Linked DNA regions of Homo sapiens: all the other regions are linked to region 1. Evidence: fine-mapped expression QTL. A gene starts in region 1. Each other region holds a variant in brackets. All regions are shown on one strand. Distances are between the middles of the regions. Region 1 holds the start of PDE3A (phosphodiesterase 3A). Region 2 overlaps LOC105369688 (a long non-coding RNA gene). Region 3 overlaps PDE3A (phosphodiesterase 3A).

Region 1 (8,585 bases):
AAGGTAGCTTAAAACACTCCATTAATACTTAGAAACCTTGGTAGATTTCATGCAAAAGAGCATCACATTTATAGATCAAGGAAGTTTCTACGCTGTATATAAATTTTGCCCTGGAATCCTTCTGTCACATATATAAAAAGTAGCAGTTTGGGTGCTATTATAACACTTACAGGTAAGTAAAACTAACTTTAAAATGTAGAGGTGTTGAAATATAACAAAGAAATAGGCTATACTTATATTTTCCTTTCTATCAACAACCTTCATAGTTTTTCTCAATAATACACTCTAGCTTAAAAATGCAAATCATCCTTAATTTCTAACATTTTAGACTGGCCTGTACATCAGTAGCTGCTGTAAACCTGAACTATTTGCTCATGAAGTCAATAAGAGCTCAGCCTTTGACTGTTTATCAGCAATTTATTGGGCAGGCACTGCATTTTAAGTGGCAGCATTAAAAAAAAAAAAGGCAGATGATACATCTAAAAATGCAAGGTTTCTGCATTTTTTCCCTGACTATATGTGAAATAATAAGTATTAATAAGGTCCATGTTGGCAAAATGTTTACTTTTTTAAATCTTAAGTTAATCCCCTATTGTTGTTAATTGGCACAGTTGGAGACTATGTCATAAATCGTGATGTGAGCTATGACATCTTAGTCACTCATATTTAGGTATCTCCTAATTTCTCAGCTTACATATTACTGAAATGCAGCTTTACATTGCTTTATCCCTAAGCCTACCAGAAAACTGCTAAGGATTGTAGACATTTCATCAGGTAATCAATACAAAGTTTTCAAAACTTTGACAATTACCTATTTCTCTAATAGATGAGTAATTTAAGTATTGATATAGGCCCGCACTGCTAACAATGTTTTGGTCAATGACAAACCACATATACCACAGTGGTCCCATATGATTATAATATGGTACTTTGTGCCCTTTCTATGTTTAGATACACAAAGATTTACCATTGTGTTACAGTTGCCTAGAGTATTTAATACAGTAACATGCTGTACACGTTTGTAGCCTAGGGGCAATAGGCTATACCATATAACCGAGGTGTGTAGTAGGTCACACATCTGGTTTGTGTCAGTATACTCTGTGATGTTCACATGATGAAATCACCTGATGACGCATTACCCAATCTCAGGTATTCTTTCATAGCAACAGTAAACAGACTAAGACAAGCTTCCACCATGTGCCAGGCACTATTCTGGTAATTGGAGATACACAGCAAACAAGACAGCTATTCAGAGTCCTTGTTCACATGGCACTAACACCCTAGTGAACAGAGATAAATGATAAGTGAGAAAACAAATAAACGAACAAGACCATTTTGTATAGTGATAAGTGCTATAAATACAATGAAACAGGGTAGTATGATAGTGAAAGAAAAAGTGTGTATGTGTACATGGGGTGTCCAAAAATTTTTGATAAGATTCTTGGAAAAAAAGCCTTTCTAAAATAAAGTAACATTTGAGGTTAGACTTGATGGAGCACAAGGGGCCAGCTATGTGAAAATCTCTGGATACCAAGGCCCTGAACAGGGTTTCCCATTTCACATGTATGAAGAACACAAAGGTGGCCTGAGGTATTAGAGATGCATTCTCCATTCCTTTAGACACTAGCCAAGTGAATGTATTAAAATTTAAATTAAAATAAAATACAAAAGTTCAGCTCCTCAGTGACACCAACCATGGTTCAAGTATTCAATGGCCACATGTGGTTAGTGGCAACCATGTTGGACAGCAGAGGGTCTATTTGTCATTGAAGAAAGTTCTAATAAATAGTACTTCACCAGTGAAGTAGGAGCATTGGAATAGGAGGAGAGGTCAGAGAGAATTACTTGGAAAGATCATGAAGGTCCTTGTAGGACTGTCATGAGGACTGTGATGAGGACTGCATTCTGCAAGTACGATGGGTAGCCTTTGGGTAGTTTTAAATAGGGGAGGGACATAATTCAATTTATATTTTTAAAGTGTTACTCTGCTATATAGAAAATGAATTATAAGTAGGGCAAGATCAGTTAGTTACTGCACTTGTCCTGGCCAAGGAAGATGATGGGTCTTTGGCAGGTTATTATAAGAGGGACAGTGAAAAGTAAATGGATTTAGAATATATTTTAGAGACAGGATCAAGTGGATTTCCTAATCGACTAAAAGTAAAACAAGATAAACAAAGGAAAGAATCAAGACCCGTTCCCTCTTCTGGGGCCTGAGCAACTAGGTAGATGGTTATGTTCTTTACTGGGATGTAACAAGATTGAGAAAATATAGTTTGGGTGGGTAGGGGATAGGTAGGAAGGGAATTGTAAGTTAAGAATTTTGTTTTGGATACCTTATGTTTTAGGTACCTATTAGATATAAATATATAATAATCAGATAGGTAGCAGAGAATGATTGAACCCATACTACGGAACGTAAACTTACTGAATTTTACAATAGAATCCCCTGACGCTTAACTATATTTAATAAAGCTCAAATGTGAAGGGTTAGATCCTTTTCCCAAAAAACTGTAAAAACATGTTTGCTAGATTTGACTAAGTGGAAGATTTATCAAGTAAAACTTAAATTTTTATTTCTGTTGTCCATGCTCTACTATTTTTCTGCACGTACAACATTTTCCTTATTCTTTGGCTGTGTTGTCACTTTCTTGAACTAGGACTCACCACTATCTGTAGAAAAGAGGCAGTGTTTATATGTGATTGCTCCCTATCCAGTTTATGTATTGCAGCTTATTTCATTTAATATACTCTGTTAAAGGTACATTATTAGTCGCTTCTTTCAGTTAGTATAGCCCTGCAGGTTTCTGCATCTCTCTAACATTAGCATTTTGTTGTCTTTGTTCACTTGCCTCTGGGTTCTGGATGGTATGGGGAGAAAAATCTACCTTCTTTCCTTTTGATGGGACAAATAACTTTTTGATTATGATTTGTTAAAGAAACCTGGATGCCAGGACATTGCCTCCTTATTTTATTGAAGAGTTCCAGGATGTTATTAACACATGGATTTAGAATATTCTTGTTTTGCTGCCATTAGCAAATGCCATTTTTTCCTGTTACAACTTTTAAAAAACATCTGCTTCCCATACCTTAAGTGTTCAGTTTTTATGATAATATTATATTAAATTTTCTAAAGAACTGAGATAATTGTGGGGGTAGGGGACAGATAAAATTGAAATATTCTAAAATTTCCCTTACTATGCTTTTCTTTTTAACCTTGATATATGCCAGATTTTTGGTTTATTATTTTAATATGTTATTTTTGATGCCAACAGATATGAATGATTTTCCAATCAAGGTTTTTCACTCCGATGTGTCCCAGGTAGGATCTGGCATATGAATCATATGTCTAAAAAGGAAACTCATGAAAGTATGTGTGCGTGCTAGGGGGCTCATTTGTCTTTGGCAAAGACATTGCTGCTCCTGTTTCCTTAATTATTAAACAGATGGTGCCCACTGCCATTGACTAGCTGCCCAACTCATACTCCTGTGTGGTAGCACAATTCTGGACATCTGACAGAGAGAAGCTATACCTTTATAGTATATCTGCCTTCTACTAGAACAGGCTGCTTCCCATGAAGCTGTTTAAAACTTAAGTCATCTTCTCCCCCTGTCCCCATAAATTAATTTTATCTCAAGGATCTCCTTTTGGCTTTTTTTATTGCTTCATGTCTACATACAAAATACAGTGGCATATTGAATCAATTATCTAAATGCTCTAGGCTGTAAATACACTTTAACCTGGAATGTCAAGATAATTAAGACAAAATTGGATTATTAAGATTATTATTAGTGAGGGCAAATGACATCTAAGATAGCCATGTTAAAAGTGGAGTATCATATTAAAAAGACAACTAGATCCCAGGGAACATCAATAGAGTTTAAGTCCATTGAACAGATACTGAATTCTTTTTCATAATCTGCCAAAAAAAGGTTAGCTTGAAAATTTTCTTTTAGTTTCTCAAATATCACACTGCTGCAGTACACGAACCTTTACTCATTAATAACTAAGGTCCTGATTTTTTTCATATGCTTTGCTCGAAGATGTAGTATTTTGCAGCCATAGACAGTCTTCTAAGATCTCTCCTAGTGTTAACCCACCTATCCTCACCTCTCCCTTGAGATTTTTCTTTATTTTTTGATGAACTATCTGGGCTTTTAAACTTTGTTAACCTTTTTTGAGGATACGGTCACTTAATCTCAATGTAATTTTACTTTCCACAGTCAAAAACTATTGTGTAATACTCATGCACTGGATTTAAATGACTGCTGCCTCTCCTTCCTTTCTTTTTATACTATTGTGGTCTAGGTAAGGCTGATTCTTCCATCATTTGAACCAACAGGCCAGGCTTGGGTTCTCATAAAGCAGACCTTCCAGCAGGAGCGACCAAAGGATGACACTGTCACCTGAAATTGGACTGCTGTTGTACCTGACTTGGGAACATCTTTGAATCAGACAGTAGAAGTGGCTGTCATTTTCAGGGACAGTAGAAAGTATGTTGGCTCTCATCTGCCAAGTAGGCAAACACAATCTTTTTTTTTTTTTTTTCCTTCCAACGTTCTAGGGAGCTCAGCCTCAGGGCTAGCCGCAGCCCCCCACACCCCGGGGCTGCGGTGGGCTGCGCGGTGGATCAGCCTCAGCAGCCCCTGCTCCAGCCTGTAGGGTGAACCGGCCGCTTTCCCAGCAAAGGAGCAATCGAGCTGAGGGTAGCGCCTCCTCCGCAGGAGGGGGCGGGAGCTCGGCTGAGAAAGCTTTCCTAGGGAGTTGCCTTAAAGAAAGAAAGCGGAATTGTCGATCACTCCAGTTGCCAGTTTTATACAATTTTAAGCAGTCGTCGCCACTCGTTTCCCCTTTGCAAAACTGCAAATCACCACCAACCTTGCATCAAATAGAAGTGGGGAGGGAAAAAAAAAGCAAATCTCCTTCTCCCTTCTCACCCTCCCTTTCTTCTCACCCTCCCTTCCTCTCTTACTCGCTCCTTCTCCCTCCCTCCCTTCTGCGGCTGCCGCTAGTCTCTCGGTCTGGCTCTCTCTCCGACGGGACTTAGCAACTTCTTATTTCTCAGCCCCTTGTCCATTTTTTTTTTTCCATCCTTTGCCATGAATTGGATTGACAGAGGCGGGGGAGGCTTTGCTTTCTGCCCCAGGGAATGGCGATTCGCGTCCTGGGGCCGTGCCGGGGAGAATCGGCCGAGGAGAAAGAAAGAGTGATAGAAAAAGAGCTGCAGGAAGGAGGAGAAGGGAGACCTCCATCTGCCGCGGGCCCGGCGCGCTGCAGCGCAGCGCAGCGCCGAGCTGCGCCTCGGAATGGCCCGGAGCCCGCCCTGCGCCCCCGGCTCCTCCAGCGTCAGCGGCTCCTGCGCGCGGGATGCATTGGGCAATTTTTGAAATCCTGAAGTAGGAAGAGACCCCGGAGGATATAAGTCGGGGGTGGGGGTGGAGCAGAGAATCTGTGAAAGATATTCAAAGAGAGAAAAGGGGAATCCTGATCGTTTCTGCCCGTGCTTGTTTTCAACTTGAGCGTGCTAGCCTTTAACTTGAAGAAGTCTCATTGGAGCATCTAGCATTCTCCAGGAGTTATTCGAAAGCTGAAACTTTCAGTGGATTGTGGGCCTGGGGAGAAGAAGGATTCCGAGGGTGGAATTGGGAAGAGCGTGCGTGCGTGTGTGTGTGTGTGTGTGTGCGCGCGCGCGCGTGGGTCGGGGCGGGGGCGTCGGGGGGCCACTGGGAATTCAGTGAAGAGGGCACCCTATACCATGGCAGTGCCCGGCGACGCTGCACGAGTCAGGGACAAGCCCGTCCACAGTGGGGTGAGTCAAGCCCCCACGGCGGGCCGGGACTGCCACCATCGTGCGGACCCCGCATCGCCGCGGGACTCGGGCTGCCGTGGCTGCTGGGGAGACCTGGTGCTGCAGCCGCTCCGGAGCTCTCGGAAACTTTCCTCCGCGCTGTGCGCGGGCTCCCTGTCCTTTCTGCTGGCGCTGCTGGTGAGGCTGGTCCGCGGGGAGGTCGGCTGTGACCTGGAGCAGTGTAAGGAGGCGGCGGCGGCGGAGGAGGAGGAAGCAGCCCCGGGAGCAGAAGGGGGCGTCTTCCCGGGGCCTCGGGGAGGTGCTCCCGGGGGCGGTGCGCGGCTCAGCCCCTGGCTGCAGCCCTCGGCGCTGCTCTTCAGTCTCCTGTGTGCCTTCTTCTGGATGGGCTTGTACCTCCTGCGCGCCGGGGTGCGCCTGCCTCTGGCTGTCGCGCTGCTGGCCGCCTGCTGCGGGGGGGAAGCGCTCGTCCAGATTGGGCTGGGCGTCGGGGAGGATCACTTACTCTCACTCCCCGCCGCGGGGGTGGTGCTCAGCTGCTTGGCCGCCGCGACATGGCTGGTGCTGAGGCTGAGGCTGGGCGTCCTCATGATCGCCTTGACTAGCGCGGTCAGGACCGTGTCCCTCATTTCCTTAGAGAGGTTCAAGGTCGCCTGGAGACCTTACCTGGCGTACCTGGCCGGCGTGCTGGGGATCCTCTTGGCCAGGTACGTGGAACAAATCTTGCCGCAGTCCGCGGAGGCGGCTCCAAGGGAGCATTTGGGGTCCCAGCTGATTGCTGGGACCAAGGAAGATATCCCGGTGTTTAAGAGGAGGAGGCGGTCCAGCTCCGTCGTGTCCGCCGAGATGTCCGGCTGCAGCAGCAAGTCCCATCGGAGGACCTCCCTGCCCTGTATACCGAGGGAACAGGTAAGCACTGGCAACTCCTCTCTCGGCTCTTGGAAACTTGAAACACTTGGCAACCGGCGCAGAGTGGAGAGAATCCGAGCGCTGGGAACTAAAGGGAAGATAGCCTAGAAAACTGGTCTAACTTCAGAATTAAGAAACTAGCAGGTTTTTTTTTTGTTTTTTTTGTTTTTTTTTTTTTGTTTTTTTGCCCTCTCTTTCACACAGTAGTTTTATAACCTGAACGACTGAAACACAATTAACAAAACTAGATGGCATGTGTAGGGTCTTCCACAGCTGGGCCAACTTTTTAGATCTGCTACACCTGGTGTATGGCTTGCCTACTCTTTTCAGTACTCTTACGCTTTCCTTCCTTAGCAGAAATTTTAGAATTAAGTTTAGATTTTAGCAATGAGTGATTTTTTTAACACATAGATTTTACTAGATTTCTACTTTTTAAAAAGTAAAATCTTTTTAATGAAATGATATTAAACATTTATGAAAACCAGTAAAAAGATTCTAGAGCAAAGCAAGCTGTGCTTGAAGGTGAGGAATTGATACACATTTTCTGGTTTTGCAGTAAGTTTTATTTGGAGAGACTGCAGCTGATGGTGCCCAATTTGTTTTTAAATATAATTTAGGGGCATACATTATTACATGCTAGTGTGTTTTGTATCACAAACTTCAACTTGGGGAATAATATGTCTGAACTTTGGAATTGTTCAAAATTGTCAACTGCGTTTTAGTGTCAACTAAAAACAAAACAGTTCTCTTTAGTATGTGCATACTTAAGTGGATATTTATAAATTCAAATGGATTTATGCAGATTTTACAGGAAATACTAATTCGGGAGGCCATTTCTAAGATTGCTGGAGATGTATATCTTCCCACAACGTGGGAGGAGGAGGAACCTGGGATTATAAAGTTGTAAATAAAACTTTAGTCACTTTTGGGGATGAGTCTCCTTATTATCATTAAGTGATTTAAAACTATAGAACAGTTGCTATAAAGGGCATAAAGGAACAAATCCCAATTTTAAATGCATACGGTGTCTAAAAAAGCATACCGAAGGGTATGCCTCCCTAGTTGAAGCAGATTTGTTCACCTCTCTATTTGAAGTGGATTTGACACTTGATGGGGAGGAGGAGCTGGTTGGATACAGCAAGTGGAAATTTACATTTTTCCCTTTAAATTAATGCCTACCTGTGGTACTATTAGGACAACTTTAGGGAGCAAGAGAATATCCTAAGATAAAGTAAGCTTTTTCTTTTTAGGTTATTCTGTGGATAATCATTTGGGTATTTCTAAGAAATAGCAGTCACCATATGGTGTGGGTGGCTAGTTGGTTTCTGAAATGGAGTTGATTACACAGATCTATGGCTGTTTGACATTATTGAGCAGAGTAGATGACAGCATCATAGTCTGTTTATTTTAAAGCAAATGTAGTTATTTGCTTTTTGTTTCGATAAAACAAATGTTTCTTGTCTTTAAGCTTACTCTAAGAGTGGAGGGGAAAACAGGCCACTGACTGATAGTTTTGGTAAAAATTTGGAAATTGTTAAAATGGAGTAAGTTATCTATTTGAGGGTAAACTAACCATTTTAATTTCTTTTCACAGTTATGGGAGAGAATGTCTTAAATGAAAACACCACCGCTTTAAGTATGTTCAGAATACACTATTCATTAACTTATAGGGAAATAGGATGTTACTATTGCAAAATTCACAACCATAATTTCTAAGGAAAATCTGGGATTTAATCACAACTTGATTCCAAATTGATATCATTTACCCTGTGGAATTATTTTTTAAAATTTTATATTAACATTTATAAGTTAAGAAATTAAGGGTGGATAGAAGATAAGAAGGTGGTTAGGTAAATTAACCAGCAGCAT
Region 2 (8,585 bases), 47 kb before region 1:
TTTTTTGTATTTTTAGTAGAGACGGGGTTTCACCTTGTTAGCCAGGATGGTGTCAATCTCCTGACCTCGTGATCTGCCCGCCTCGGCCTCCCAAAGTGCTGGGATTACAGGCGTGAGCCACCGCGCCCGACCTAGTCACTGAAAATTCTTTACTTAATATGTAATATTTCTGGCCTTTGTTAATTCTCTTCCTCTAAACCAGCACTACTGTGGGGTGTCTTTTCTTTCCAAGATTATTCTATCAGAAGTTTACGTGATATATATAGAGAGAGATGGATAGATAGATATGAATATATATGTATTGTTTTTTCAAATTTTCCATTCTGTTGGAAACAGTTTTCCTAGACAAATAACAATTGGGGGGCCCAAGCGAACTCCACTGTTGTCCTCAATGCACGTGGTCATAGTCTTATCCTCTCATGTATTCAGCATTAATGATGAAACCATGCCATGAGAAAGATTATTGAGCTGGGAGGCTGTGAACCTGATGTAAATTTCAAGCTTTTGTCACCTTACAAGCTACTGGATTAAGGGTAAACTATTGCCTTTCATTGGCTTGCTTTCCTCGTGTGCAAAATGTTATCTTTAAATACTCTAATGTCAAAAAAATAGAATGATTAAGCCCTACTATTTGAGAGCACAACAGGTTGATTATAGTCAATAATATCTTAATTGTACTTTTCAAAATAACTAAAAGGGTATAATTAGATTGTTTGTAATACAAATGATAAATGCTTGAGGGAATGGATACCCCATTCTCCATGATGTGATTATTACGCATTGCATGCCTGTAGCAAAACATCTCATGTACGCCATAAATATATACGCCTACTATGTACCCACAAAAATTAAAAATGAATAATGTCACTTGTACTCTAAGAAACAAACTTACTGTGCTAATGAACTTCAGAATTTGTGTAGATATAAGAATCTGGCCATGTATTTTATGGGCAGATTATGGATTTCAATTGTTATTTTAAATATGTTTTATGTAAATACTATTACCATTAGAGGGCAGAGATTTATTTTAAATTCAAGTCACTCTGTATACAACAGAAAGCTAAGCATTTTTAGATTACTTAGATATTTCAGGGTCAAAACCACCTGATATCTTTTGCTGTAGTCAATCAGTCACTATAGTTTAGGCAGCAGTTGGATATTCAAAAGCCTGTGATGAGAGTTTTTTGTACTGCCTGCTGTGGTCTGACTGTGTTCTCCAAAATTCATGTGTTGGGAACTTAATCCCCAATGCAACAGTGTTAGGAAGTAGATCCTTTTGAGAGATGACGTCATGAGGGTCTGCTCTCATGAATGGATTAATGGCCTTATAAAAGGGCTTGACAGAGAAAGTTTGTCCCGTCTTTGCCCTTTCATCTCTTCTACCATGTGAAGCCACGGCGTTCCTCCCATCCTAAAGACACAGCATCAAGGCACCATCTTAGAAGAAGAGAGCAGCCCATATCAGACAGCTGAATCTGTGGTGCCTTGATTGGACTTTCCAACCTCCAGAACTGTAAGAAGTAAATTTCTGTTCTTTATAAATTATCCAGTCTCAGGTATTTTTGTTATAGCAGCACAAAACAGACTAAGACACAGCCAGAGTTCTGAAAGGAAGGTAGTGAGTGAGCCTGAGAGGGAGACTATTTGCTGGCTATGTTTCTGAAGCTTTTCATAGAAATCCATAAAAACTAGCTTGCACAGACGTACTGTGACATTTCCGTGGAGAAATATGAGCAATTTGAGTGAAAGTCTGTGGGATAAGCTGGAGGAAGCATATTAGCATGCAATACTTAATGTGAGTTCTGCTTTCCCTTCGGTCACATAAATGAGCAATTTGCAAGCAGATTATTACCTAGCCCAGTTAAGAATTTTCCATCCTTTTTTAAAAACAAAAACAAAAAACAAAAAACTCCTTTTAAAAATTGATGTCTAGCTGGGAACTTACAAGAGATTAGCACATATGGCATAGTGACGTAAGCAAGAAGTTTTAACATTGTTATTTAATTTAATAACCATATTTAATAACTTGTAGTTTTTGAAAGTTTATCCAGAGCTTAAATTTGGTCATATTTTATTTTTTCTTTTATATTTTCCTTTTTTCTTTCTTACTCTCTCTTTTTGAGTGTGTGAGAGAAAAAACAATAGGACATTTCCTTTATCTAAAACTTCATAGAAACTCTTGTAGAATTTGTCCTCACTAAAGACAACAAGTATGCCATCCTAAAAAATAAATACCAGCAAGCAAATTCAATAAGATAGGAAATTAAGGCTGAGAAACAAAAACTGACTGGAACTCTTTAAGTCCTCTCTGATTTATCATCTTAAATAGTTGGTACAGCACTCTCAAAATTTCTGGATCAAATGAGAGTTGTTAGTGACTTCACAATGTAAAATCAACCCAAATTATGGAACAAACTTTTTATAATCAAATTATATTTTACTCCAGCCTTAAATCAATATAACACTTGCTTTCTAAATCAAGTTTTGTGTATTCGGGCTGTATTGGATTTTTATAAAACTTTACAGCAACTCATTAAGTAAGCTAAATAGATCAAGAAGTTTTGTATGTGTTATAATGTTAACTTTTTTGTGTTTTGACTAGAAAACTAGGCATGTTTCTTTAAGATGACTAAATTTTCTATTATTACGTAGATATATGTATATATTATATATGCATTATGTAGTTGCACTATTTGAAGGTCCAATAGGAATTTTTTTTCTCTGAATTTTTTTCCTCCTACACCCTGAACTCCTCCGGCATGTCTCCATTATATTTTCTTTGTGAATCACAGTACGATCTTGTTTAACTCTTAAGTGGACCCCTCGAGGAACTAGATCTCAGTCTGTCCAAACTGACCTCTCTATCTTTCCCATCAAGTTGGCTTCAAGAGCTCTTATTTGCTCTCTTATTATTGTTATCGGTGTAAAACCATATCAGAAGCCTCCAGTTATCCTTGATTACTCCCTACCCCTCAACCCCAGATTCAAACATCACTGAATCCTGTCAACTGAAACAGAGAAATGTCTTTGAAGTCTGAACTGCTTGCTCTCAATTTCCACTGCCACGGCTTTAATCCAGGCAACTCAGATAGAGGCGGCTTTGAGGAGCAGTGCCACAGTCTATTATTATAGCTATGTGTGAAGCTGACCCCTCTAAGCTTTCGTTTCCTCAAATATCAAGTGGAGGGTGAATTTACCTCAGAGTGTTGCTGTGAGATTAAATGGGATAAGGCATATAGCACATTTAGCAGATTCCTGCCATGTAGCAAGTTGAAGGTGAAGGACAAAAAAGAAGGTAAAGTTGTATTCCGGATAGAGAGGATAAAGAGTAAAATGCCTCAGGAACTTGAAGCAGCACAGCCCATTCAGGGATAAGAAACACTTGTTAAATATTAATAATTCTTCATAGTCATTGCTATTAGAACTGAGGACTGAGGACTTAATTATATAATGTTCATGGCTAAATAAGATTTACTCGATTATTTTTTTTTCCTTTGAGATGGAGTTTCCGTCTTGTTGCCCAGGCTGGAGTGCAATGGCACGATCTTGGCTCACTGCAACCTCTGCCTCCCAGGTTGAAGCAATTCTCCTGCCTCAGCATCCCGAGTAGCTGGGATTACAGGCATGTGCCACCACACCCGGCTAATTTTGTATTTTCAGTAGAGATGGGGTTTCTCCATGTTGGTCAGGCTGGTCTCGAACTCCCAACCTCAGGTGATCCGCCTGCTTCGGCCTCCCAAAGTGCTGGGATTACAGGCATGAGCGACTGCACCCGTCCTACTTGATTTTTTTAAATGCAAATAGAAGAGTCAATCCAGCAAAAGAACAACTAAATGCCACCATAGACACAGATACATACATACATTTGCACACCAATAGCATCCCAAGGGAAAATATCCTCAGTAAGCGGTCACCTGATCTGGCATTTTCAACCCTTAATAGAAAATTATGGGAAATGATTACCACAGCTACTTTGGCAACACTTTTAAGTTGTTTATTTACAATATTCAAAATTACAATTTTACAATATCCCTGTAACTCTCAACCTAAAATTGGAAATAATAATAAGCTTCAAACTGGGAATCGTTCTTGTTTTAGCCTTTCAACCAGATTTCACTCATTGGCAGTGATTCTTTCTTCTGACCCATTTCAAAAGCTGACTCTTTTATCTTGAATTGATTCCAGGTAATTGTATCTGCATCTGACCCTAGGGAAGGAACAGTCGTTTGGAACCAGTGCTATAGGGCAATAATCAGGAACTGTCTGAGACGGGCAGTGTCCAGTAGCTACCACATGACAAGAGATATCAGAATTAGAAAGGTCCCTCTGATATTCCTTGCTCTTGCTAAGAGAGACATC[C/A]GGTGTCAGTGATTCCATCTCCTCGTCAGGTCAGTTTTCCTGTGATCAAGAATAAGAAAGAAAGAAAAAAGACCTTTTATTCACTTGCTAACTGAAGCTGTATCTGTTTTTAACTAGCATTAAAATGTTCCATTCTTTGTCTAACTTACATGAATTACTCTTAGGCTTTCCTTTCACTCTTTTAAATAACAGTTTTTTTCTAGCCATAGTGGATATGCCTGTTTTCAAAATATAACTGCAAAGAGCTATTGCTGCTTCAGTGATTGTGGATTACAAGCTATTTAGGTTGTCACAGCAAATCCATTAGGGTAGAAATCTATAAGGTCTATTAAATGTGTAAACCGTGTTTAATAGTCTTTCACTTTGGTAGATGTTTATTTATAGTTATTTAGTTATTTATTATTTTCTAATTTTCCTTTTTATACCAGGGCCTTTTTGGTAGATGTTTATTTATAGTTATTTAGTTATTTATTATTTTCTAATTTCCCTTTTTATCCCAGGGCTTTTTTTTTTTTTTATTTTTAAAGAGACAGACGTCTCGCTCTTTTGACCAGGCTGACCTCCAACTCCTGGCTCAAGTGATCGTCTGGCCTCAACCTCCCTAATATCTGGGACTAGAAATGCACACCACTTTGCTAGCTTACCCAGGACCTATTTGAAATTTATTTATAGTTATTTAGTTATTCATTTTCTAATTTCCCTTTTTATACCAGGGCCTTTATTTTTTTTTTTTTTTTTTTTTTTTTTTCAGAGACAGAGGTCTTGTTCTTTTGACCAGGCTGGTCTCCACCTCCTGGGCTCAAGTGATCCTCTGGCCTCAGCCTCCCTAATATCTGGGACTATAAATGCACACCACTTGCCAGCTTACCAGGGCCTATTTGAAATTGATACCATTTGTAAAATTTCTTCTGGGTCTCTGAAATATAGTTTGTATAGCATCTTTTATAAATATGTAGTTATAATATTTTTGGATGGTATCTTGCTATGGTTAATAAACATCAGCATATTTTAGTAAAAAAAAAATCAGGTTAGTTAGAACCCTGAATGATGCAGAGGGTAATATTTAAGAGTAGGTTTCAAGTAATAAAACTTGAGGAAGTTCTATAGTTCTATTCAAGAGGCTGAGGTGGGAGGATTGCTTGAGTCCAAGAGCTGTAGGCTTCAGTGAGCTATGATCATGCCTCTGCGCTCCAGCTAGTCTCTTTTTTTTTTTTTTTTTTTTTATTGTTTTGAGACGGAGTCTCGCTCTGTCGCCCAGGCTGGAGTGCAATGGCGCGATCTCGGCTCACTGCAAGCTCCGCCTCCCGGGTTCACACCATTCTCCTGCCTCAGCCTCCCGAGTAGCGGGACTACAGGTGCCCGCCACCACGCCCGGCTAATTTTTTGTATTTTTAGTAGAGACGGGGTTTCACTGTGTTAGCCAGGATGGTCTCGATCTGCTGACATTGTGATTCACCCTCCTCAGCCTCCCAAAGTGCTGGGATTACAGGCGTGAGCCACCGCGTCCGGCCCCAGCTAGTCTCTCAAAATAAAATAAAATAAAATAACTTCAGGAAATGTGAGGAATTTGGGTTTGTTAAGTCTAAGATGAGGTGACAGTGAGTGTTCCATAATGTTCTAGAACTTCAGTCTTTGACATGCAGTAGTGAAAAAATATAGTGGTATATAATAATACTATATTATTCTCAGGGATTGTGTCAGATCAATTGCTAACAATGGGAAGACCAGAGATCACAGTGGGGCTACCACTCCGAGACACTGGTAAACACCAGGAATACAGGGAGGTTGACTACTTTTGACACCATATAGATAAAAACAAGCTCAAATTCTTTTTTCTTTACTCAAGATACAAAATTAAAATGACAACACTTAACTGTTTTATTATGAAATGTTTATAAGAGGAGACTTGGCATATATGTACAATTTAAGAAAGAACAATAAAACAAATTGGCATATGCTTTCTACCTGGCTTAAAAAGTAGAAAATGAGCTGCAACTTAAGTATACTACCATTCATTCCTGTCTTCACTTTTTGGGAGTCAGTATTTTAAAACTTGTGTTCATCATTCCGTTAATTCTTTTTTGTGGTTTTATCACATATGTGCATCCTAAAAAATACACTATTTGGTTTTATCTCCTTTTTACTTTTATATGCTGATAATAAATTATGCTTTTATGTATACTTCGGTGACATTTTCCTGAATATTATTTTTGAGTTTAATCCATGTTGATACTCCAGTTCATTCTCAAACCAATATTATGTACAACTATATGAATTTAAGATGATTTCTTTATCTAGTCTCCCATCTATGATTTCCAGTTTTTGTCTACTTCAAATCATGCCTCTATTGACATTTTTGTGTGTGTCTCCAGATATGCATGTAGAGATAGTTCTCTGTGATATGTTCCTGGAAATAGAATTGGTGAGTTGTAGTGTACTCATAACCTTAACTTTATTGTAGCAGTGCCTAATTGTTTTCCAGACAAGTTGTAGCAATTTACATTCTCACAAGTACTCTAGATGTTCTTGTTCTATTATATGCTTTCCAATATTTGTTATTAATCATCGAAACTTTTCTCCATATCATGGATATGAAATGAGAACTTTATTTTGTTTTTATCTGTATTTCTTAACTATTAATAATATTAAGCATCTCTTCCTATGGATATTGCCTACTCCTATTTCTTCTTTTGTGAAATGCCTCTCATATTTTCCCTTTTTAATAATGAATTGTTTGCTCTTACATATTGCTTTATCGGAATTCTTTGCATATTCTGGAGATAAGATTTTAAGATTTTCTTAGTCATGTATTTTTAAAATATTGTTTCCTGAACTAATGTGCAGTTTATCTTTACTTTTTTATGTTGTCTTTCAATTGGAAGTTCTTCATTTTACTGTATTTGAATATATGAATCCTTTTCTTTATTGCTTGAGTGTTACATGCATTATTTAAGAAATTTTTCCCACTCTGTGTTCTCCTGTGCTGCCATTAAACTTTTTAAATTTTTCACAAGTAAGTTTTAAGGTATAGAGAAATAATTTGTTTGTCTGTGTGTGTGTATGAGAGAGGGAGAAAGAAAGAGAGAGAAGCAAGGTTCAGCAAGGTTCAAGTTTTATTTATCTTTTATAGACAGAAAATTGCCCTAGACTATTTGTGAATAGTTTATTCTTTCCTAACTGACCAAGAATTCTATTTCTGTCATATATGTCAAATAGCCATACACACATACATCTGGTTCTGGGCCGGCCTTCTACTTGGTTCCACTGGTTTATTTTTATATACCAGTATTACATTTTCTTTATTAAATTTTTTTTCATAATGAGAAAATAAGACACTTTCTTCTTCCTCCTCCTTCATCTTCTTCCTTATGAATATTTTAGCTATTCTAGATTCTTCGTTCTTGTGCATATGTTTTGGAAATAGCTTGTCAAATTCCAAGAAAAACTCTTTTGGAAATTTGATCAGAATTCTATTGAATATACTAACCAATTTGGGGATAATGACATTTTTTTTTAGTCTTTCTATTCATAAACATGGTATATGTTTCAATTTATAAAGATCTTAATTTCTTGTTTTTTAAAATTTCTATTTCTATTTATTTCTGACTACCGTGTATTTTTGGTTCCTATTGTAAAGAATACACTTGTTTAAATTAAATTTTGTAATTATTATTTATGGATATACAGAAATTCAGTTGGCTTTAGTATATTATCCTTAGATCTGGCAATCTTATTCTACTCTTAATTATTCTAATAATCTGTAGAAAATTGAGGTTGTTTATAGAGCTAATTATCTAATCTTCAAATAATAATAATTTTTTTCATTCCCAATTCTTAGGCTTTATTTTTGTTGTTTTGTTATATTAGATAAGGTCTCCCATATAGTAAAGTAGAAATGATTATAGGGCACATTGATGACTTATTCCTGATTTTAAAGAGAAAGCTTAACAATTAGTAAAGTTGGTTTGCTATCTACTTAGGACTTTTGCATTTATGCTCAGGAGTGAAGGTGGTCTTTAATAGTCTATTATTCCTGACTTCATTTTCATGCCAACATTACACTACCCTCGTCAATTAACTTGGGGATGTCTCTTTTTCTCTTCTTTGTAAGGCATTGTTTCAAAATATATTATTTTTGCGTGTTTGATAGAACTCACCTGTAAAATAATCTGAGCCCATTATTTCATTTGTAGGAAGAATTTTTATTGTTATTTGTACATTAATGT
Region 3 (8,000 bases), 180 kb after region 1:
GCTTATTAAAATGTCATTACCCAGAGGAGTAATCATAAACTAGCCAGAGGGTATTTTTTATAGATGGTGAGAGACAAACATTTTTTTTCTCCCTGAATTAAGTAGTTATGTACTCTTATCAACTAGAATATATTTAAACTTACTTTTATTTATTTTTCCAGTCTCAATCTCTCCCTCTCTGTTTTATGTTTCTAGCAACTTTATGTAACTAATCTTAAAATCATTAGCATTCCTTCTCCAAAAAGAGTATCATATCATCTTAATAAAGTTTCTCTTTTCCCAGAATTGCTTAAGTAGCATGCTGCTATTCATTTCTCTTGAAAGTTTAGTCAAAATGAATTATTTTGCAAAAAGGAAAATTCCACAGTTTCTATTTCTTTTCCTCATTGTCTGTGGCCCATTAACGTCTTTTATCTGCTACTATGATAATGTCAAATGATTACTTTGGTCATCTGCAACTTAACACTAATCTTATCTGTTTAATTGAAAGGATGTTTTGACTTTCTCTTTGAAATAATATCAACATCATTTTGCACTTAATTCTGAAATTCATTGACCTCAATGTGCAAGCTGTCTTCTTTACTATTTATTGTGAATAACCATTTTTTTTTATTTGTTGTAATCACACATCAAGAAAGGGCTAGGGAGATGTCTTTGTGAAACATTTATCCCTATGGTTCTGTTTAATAGGAGTACTTACCAGTAGCTAAATGCCTCATTTTATTTTAAATAATCTGTAATATTAAGTCAGTTTATCACACTATGAGTAGTTTTTTTTAATGGATTCTGACAATATGCTGCTTATTGTAGTCTTTCATCCTTTATCTGAGAACTATGTTTTTATGACAGTAAAATATTTTTTATACAAATAGGATAAAAATTCATATGCTGTCATGCGCTAATATGAAGTTTATCCTTACATCTCCCACTCTCCACCCCATGCCCCATCTAGTGGCCAGAATGCTGTAATCGTGGGAAGGAATAAAGCTCTGACACTATGCAGTCCCTACCCCCATCATTGCCTCTTTCTTTGCATTAAAAAAAAAAAAAAGAAAATACACTGAAATAATAAATGCTAAATTTTGGCTCAGATTATTTTAATTAGAAATGGAAGTTTAATGATAAACACTTTGTATTCTTCAAATCCAAAAGGAGAAATATCCTGTTTACTTCCTTTGGTGCTCTTATTGACTGTAGAACATTACAGTATCTCATTTGTCATATGCAGAGTTCATTCTTTTTGAATATATTTCACATAGGATGTAGATTTCTGTAACATTTTTTATTACTTTGAAAAAAGTAGCCATAGTGTACATTTTAAAATACTACCACATTCTTGGTCAGCTCATACCTTTCAAATATAATATAAAGATGATATTAATATATAAATAAGAATGGAAAAGAATTTCTTTGCCCTGCATATTTCTCAGTTTGTTATATAATGCTAGGAAATAACTCTCTGATACATAACACACTTGGCAAATTTTACTGTTTTATGCTTTAAAAGAAAAAGTCAAATTTAGATAGTGAATTTTTTGAAATGCATCTTACAAGCTCTGATTTGCAAATTACCAAATTGATCTTATCTTCTGGAGTAAATGATGACCCAAATTAGTCTACATTTTGAGTGTTTTTGTTCTTTGACTAAAATCGTCATCGTTAAGATAATTAATGGCAGAAGGCAGTGAATTACATGCTTTCCTCATTTTAATTCTGGTCCTACAAAAATGTTTCCTTTTTGACTTACTGTCATCATGAAATATTCTCTCTTAAATCAATATATTGTGGATTATAACTTGTGTTTGTAAGATTTATTTACCTCTTTTAGTTGTGATAGGAGAATTTACCACCTTATTTTGATCCTGTTAGTTTAAACTCATTAGCAAGGAGGATAACAGTGTTAATAGTCAGCATTTTGTAAATCTTCCAGAAGATTTTGATAAATCATTTCACTAGAAGCCTATTGCTCAATTTATTGCCACTTTAAAGTTGCCAAAAATAATGAGCTCATCTTCCTATTTTAATGTAAGGTATTGTCAATGTTTGAAATGTGTCAAGAATTGTTTTTGATAGTTCTAGTGAACAACTAATGTTTCTAAATCATACTACTTATTTCATTAGTTAATTATTGCTTGTGAACCATATTATAATCATCTTTAGTATCAATAAATATTTTTGAGATGATATAATGCCAGTAAATCCATAAATTAAAAAATTAAAGCATTAAAGAAATATCTACTATGTAAGCATTCAATTTTATATAATGATTATCTGGGTCAGTGTACCCAAAATTGTGTGCTAGCCAAACTACAATTAAATCATCATGATAATTCCAAGGCTTAAAACAATTGACTATGTCTGTTAAAAATGAGTAGCTTAAAATTCATTAAATTACTTTGTTATGTTTTTTACCTATTATACTGTGAACATTTCACATGTTCTTTTTTATAAAGGCCTTGGAAGCCAAATTTTAATTGCTCTATGGTATCATTTTGTATACCGTAATCTATTGAGTAATTTCCCTTTTGTTGGATAAACAATTAGTAGCACATTATAGTTACTGGATTTTTAGATCTTAGTTTACTGGTTCAAAGGGTATGAATTTTTAATAATATATGTATTATATATATTTTATATGTGTGTAAATATATATATACAATGTGTATAAATATATATTTGTTATATAGTAGCAATATATATGCTTAGTTTACTCCCTGTTTTCCAAATATTCAACATTATTAATTTGCAAATATAATAGGCAATAGTAGTATCTTGTCATTGTTTATATTGAATTTCTTTTACTTCCAATAAAGTTAAATGTCTTTCCATAGATCTATTTATTTTGTAAGTTGTTCTCACTCTTCCCTCAGTTTTTTACTAGGGTTGGGATTCTTTCAAATTTGTAAGAACCCTTGATATCTTGAAGATATTATTCTTTACCTAAGTTTACTACAGATATTTTACCAATGTGACATTTGTGCAAATACTCTAAAGTTTTATATAGCCAGATCAATTTGTCCTCTTTTGTAATAAAAAAAAAAAGTCTTTAAAAAAAGATTTACGGACAGGATTGACAGATTGATAGCTCTTTCTCGATTCCGTGGGTGGTGGTGCATGGCCGTTCTTAGTTGGTGGAGCGATTTGTCTGGTTAATTCCGATAACGAACGAGACTCTGGCATGCTAACTAGTTACGCGACCCCCGAGCGGGTCTGCGCCTGCCACCTGTGCGGGGGCCGGCAGGACCCCGACAAGCAGCTCATGTGCGATGAGTGCGACATGGCCTTCCACATCTACTGCCTGGACCCGCCCCTCAGCAGTGTTCCCAGCGAGGACGAGTGGTACTGCCCTGAGTGCCGGAATGATGCCAGCGAGGTGGTACTGGCGGGAGAGCGGCTGAGAGAGAGCAAGAAGAAGGCGAAGATGGCCTCGGCCACATCGTCCTCACAGCGGGACTGGGACAAGGGCATGGCCTGTGTGGGCCGCACCAAGGAATGTACCATCATCCCGTCCAACCACTACGGACCCATCCCGGGGATCCCCGTGGGCACCATGTGGCGGTTCCGAGTCCAGGTCAGCGAGTCGGGTGTCCATCGGCCCCACGTGGCTGGCATCCATGGCCGGAGCAACGACGGAGCGTACTCCCTAGTCCTGGCGGGGGGCTACGAGGATGACGTGGACCATGGGAATTTTTTCACATACACGGGTAGTGGTGGTCGAGAGCTTTCCGGCAACAAGAGGACCGCGGAACAGTCTTGTGATCAGAAACTCACCAACACCAACAGGGCGCTGGCTCTCAACTGCTTTGCTCCCATCAATGACCAAGAAGGGGCCGAGGCCAAGGACTGGCGGTCGGGGAAGCCGGTCAGGGTGGTGCGCAATGTCAAGGGTGGCAAGAATAGCAAGTACGCCCCCGCTGAGGGCAACCGCTACGATGGCATCTACAAGGTTGTGAAATACTGGCCCGAGAAGGGGAAGTCCGGGTTTCTCGTGTGGCGCTACCTTCTGCGGAGGGACGATGATGAGCCCGGCCCTTGGACGAAGGAGGGGAAGGACCGGATCAAGAAGCTGGGGCTGACCATGCAGTATCCAGAAGGCTACCTGGAAGCCCTGGCCAACCGAGAGCGAGAGAAGGAGAACAGCAAGAGGGAGGAGGAGGAGCAGCAGGAGGGGGGCTTCGCGTCCCCCAGGACGGGCAAGGGCAAGTGGAAGCGGAAGTCGGCAGGAGGTGGCCCGAGCAGGGCCGGGTCCCCGCGCCGGACATCCAAGAAAACCAAGGTGGAGCCCTACAGTCTCACGGCCCAGCAGAGCAGCCTCATCAGAGAGGACAAGAGCAACGCCAAGCTGTGGAATGAGGTCCTGGCGTCACTCAAGGACCGGCCGGCGAGCGGCAGCCCGTTCCAGTTGTTCCTGAGTAAAGTGGAGGAGACGTTCCAGTGTATCTGCTGTCA[G/C]GAGCTGGTGTTCCGGCCCATCACGACCGTGTGCCAGCACAACGTGTGCAAGGACTGCCTGGACAGATCCTTTCGGGCACAGGTGTTCAGCTGCCCTGCCTGCCGCTACGACCTGGGCCGCAGCTATGCCATGCAGGTGAACCAGCCTCTGCAGACCGTCCTCAACCAGCTCTTCCCCGGCTACGGCAATGGCCGGTGATCTCCAAGCACTTCTCGACAGGCGTTTTGCTGAAAACGTGTCGGAGGGCTCGTTCATCGGCACTGATTTTGTTCTTAGTGGGCTTAACTTAAACAGGTAGTGTTTCCTCCGTTCCCTAAAAAGGTTTGTCTTCCTTTTTTTTTTTTTATTTTTATTTTTCAAATCTATACATTTTCAGGAATTTATGTATTCTGGCTAAAAGTTGGACTTCTCAGTATTGTGTTTAGTTCTTTGAAAACATAAAAGCCTGCAATTTCTCGACAAAACAACACAAGATTTTTTAAAGATGGAATCAGAAACTACGTGGTGTGGAGGCTGTTGATGTTTCTGGTGTCAAGTTCTCAGAAGTTGCTGCCACCAACTCTTTAAGAAGGCGACAGGATCAGTCCTTCTCTCGGGTTCTGGCCCCCAAGGTCAGAGCAAGCATCTTCCTGACAGCATTTTGTCATCTAAAGTCCAGTGACATGGTTCCCCGTGGTGGCCCGTGGCAGCCCGTGGCATGGCGTGGCTCAGCTGTCTGTTGAAGTTGTTGCAAGGAAAAGAGGAAACATCTCGGGCCTAGTTCAAACCTTTGCCTCAAAGCCATCCCCCACCAGACTGCTTAGCGTCTGAGATCCGCGTGAAAAGTCCTCTGCCCACGAGAGCAGGGAGTTGGGGCCACGCAGAAATGGCCTCAAGGGGACTCCGCTCCACGTGGGGCCAGGCGTGTGGCTGACGCTGTCCGACGAAGGCGGCCACGGACGGACGCCAGCACATGAAGTCACGTGCAAGTGCCTTTGATTCGTTCCTTCTTTCTAAAGACGACAGTCTTTGTTGTTAGCACTGAATTATTGAAAATGTCAACCAGATTCTAGAAACTGCGGTCATCCAGTTCTTCCTGACACCGGATGGGTGCTTGGGAACCGTTTGAGCCTTATAGATCATTTACATTCAATTTTTTTAACTCAGCAAGTGAGAACTTACAAGAGGGTTTTTTTTTTAATTTTTTTTTCTCTTAATGAACACATTTTCTAAATGAATTTTTTTGTAGTTACTGTATATGTACCAAGAAAGATATAACGTTAGGGTTTGGTTGTTTTTGTTTTTGTATTTTTTTTTTGAAAGGGTTTGTTAATTTTTCTAATTTTACCAAAGTTTGCAGCCTATACCTCAATAAAACAGGGATATTTTAAATCACATACCTGCAGACAAACTGGAGCAATGTTATTTTTAAAGGGTTTTTTTTCACCTCCTTATTCTTAGATTATTAATGTATTAGGGAAGAATGAGACAATTTTGTGTAGGCTTTTTCTAAAGTCCAGTACTTTGTCCAGATTTTAGATTCTCAGAATAAATGTTTTTCACAGATAAAAAAAAAAAAATAAAAAAAATAAAAAAAGATTTAGATTTATTTAATTTTTTTTTTATTTCCCAAGATAGGTTGAGTATTTACCTGGATTTTATTCTATTTTATATTTACAGTTTTGTCTTTTTAAAAATTTGTCTTTTAAATCTATAATTAATATTACCATTTATTATAAGGTTAGGCTTTAATTATTTTTTACCCTCAAAAGTCTATTTTTCTTTTTCTTTCTTTTTTTTTTCTTTTTTTGTGAGACAGGGTGTCACTCTGTCATTCAGGCTGGAGTGCAGCAGCGCGATCTCAGCTCACTGCAATCTTGGCCTTTCAGGTTCAAGCGATTCTCCTGCCTCAACCTCCCAAGTAGCTGGGATTATAGGCGTGCCCCACCACGCCCACCTAATTTTTGTATTTTTAGTAGAGAAGGGGTTTCACCATGTTGGCCAGGCTGGTCATGAACTCCTTTTTTTCATTAGTTGAATAATTCATCAAATACAAAATATTTTTGATGTTTTCTTGCTTATATTTTGTTAGCACACATACGTATATTTATTCCAAATTATTTCATTCATTTGCATTTTTAATGCTAAACCATTATCCCCAAATTTGGTTAAGTTTTATAATATATCTTAATAACCAGAAAGGTATTTTCATCACTTGTAACATTTTCTAATGGATTCCTTTCTTTTGAGATGGAGTCTCACTTTGTCTCCCAGGCTGGAGTGCAGTGGCGTGCGATCTTGGGTCACTGCAACCTCTGCCTCCCAGGTTCAAGCAATTCCCCCGCCTCAACCTCCCAAGTAGCTGGGGCTACAGGTGCACACTACCACGCCTGGCTAATTTTTGTACTTTTAGTAGAGACAGGGTTGACCCGTCTGGTCTCGAACTCCTCACCACAGGAAATCCGCCCGCCTTGGCTTCCCTAAATACTAGGATTACAGGCATAAGCCACTGCGCCCCGGCCTCTAATGGATTCTTTTTTATTGTATATACTTGAGGTGTACAACATAATATTTTGATGTATATTTACAATGTAAAGTAATTACTAAGGTCAAGTAAATTAACATCGATCGTCTCTCATAGTTTTAACTTTGTGTTTGGTGAAATCACCGAAAATCTACCCTCTTAGCAAACTTCAGCACACTGTATAACATCATGAGGTATAGTTCTCATATTCTGCGTTGTATCGCTACACTTATTCATCTGACATAACTGATTATATATGTTTATACTCTCCAATGAAATTTATATTCTTTCAAAATTAAAAATACTGTTAGCTTTTGATTGAAATCTAGTTAAACCTGAAATCTAGTTAAATTTGTTTGAGTAGAATTGAGCACTCAATAGTTTATAGAATTAAGTCTTCTTTACCAGTAGCACTGTATGTCTTCAGTAAACTTTTACCATTTTCTGTATATGGTTATCAAACATTTCTTGATAATATTCAAAGGCATATTATTTTTGTTGCTATTGTGAACAGTTGTTTGTTGTTAAGTCTACTTAGGAGTCATTGCTGCTATACAGAAAAGCTAATAACGTACATAAATTCATTTATAGTCCATCTTATTGGTGTGCTAGCTTATTAGCTGTAAATACTTCTTCAGCTGGTACTGATGACTAATAAGATTACTGACAGATGAATGGAGTTTCATTTCTCTGAGTCAATATCTTTTATTTCCTTAATATTCTTAATGTTAAATGTTATTTTCAATAAGTAAATATTCTTCTTTGTAAGCAAGGTAGCTCAGGGCTATTACCACCATAGGAATAACGTGATGATATTTTATAGGTTATTATTAAAAATCTACGTTTTGTGACTATGTGGGCATATTTCATATTAAATATTTAATAATTTTACTCTTTAGAACTCTCAAGATTTTTATAGTTTTGAAGGAGGATTAAAAATTATTGAACTGATTTGGCCTTCTGGTTCTTATCATTTGCGGCAGTAGATTTAACTGCAGTAGTCATTTACCCAGAATATTTTCTTAAAAAGCTAAAGGCTTAATAATA

The links. PIP is the estimated chance that this variant, and not a neighbour inherited with it, causes the effect.
Region 2: its variant is fine-mapped to the expression of PDE3A in skeletal muscle (GTEx, PIP above 0.99).
Region 3: its variant is fine-mapped to the expression of PDE3A in testis (GTEx, PIP above 0.99).

Annotation. Positions count from the first base shown.
Region 1 is chr12:20,363,529-20,372,113 of GRCh38, forward strand. It overlaps PDE3A (phosphodiesterase 3A), which reads left to right and starts at 5,009. Exons shown (of 16, transcript NM_000921.5): 1 at 5,009-6,716. The coding sequence starts at 5,757. It overlaps PDE3A-AS1 (PDE3A antisense RNA 1), which reads right to left and starts at 6,728. Exons shown (of 2, transcript NR_186033.1): 1 at 6,313-6,728. RefSeq lists a silencer at 6,047-6,341.
Region 2 is chr12:20,316,465-20,325,049 of GRCh38, forward strand. LOC105369688 (a long non-coding RNA gene) reads right to left here. Exons shown (of 3, transcript XR_931419.3): 3 at 4,352-4,398. Among named protein-coding and RNA genes, the nearest start is that of PDE3A, 48 kb to the right of the region's middle. The variant C/A (reference allele first, on the strand shown) is at 4,360.
Region 3 is chr12:20,548,364-20,556,363 of GRCh38, forward strand. All of the region lies in intron 1 of PDE3A (phosphodiesterase 3A), which reads left to right. It also overlaps the pseudogene LOC728688. Among named protein-coding and RNA genes, the nearest start is that of SLCO1C1, 140 kb to the right of the region's middle. RefSeq lists a silencer at 2,972-3,266. The variant G/C (reference allele first, on the strand shown) is at 4,450.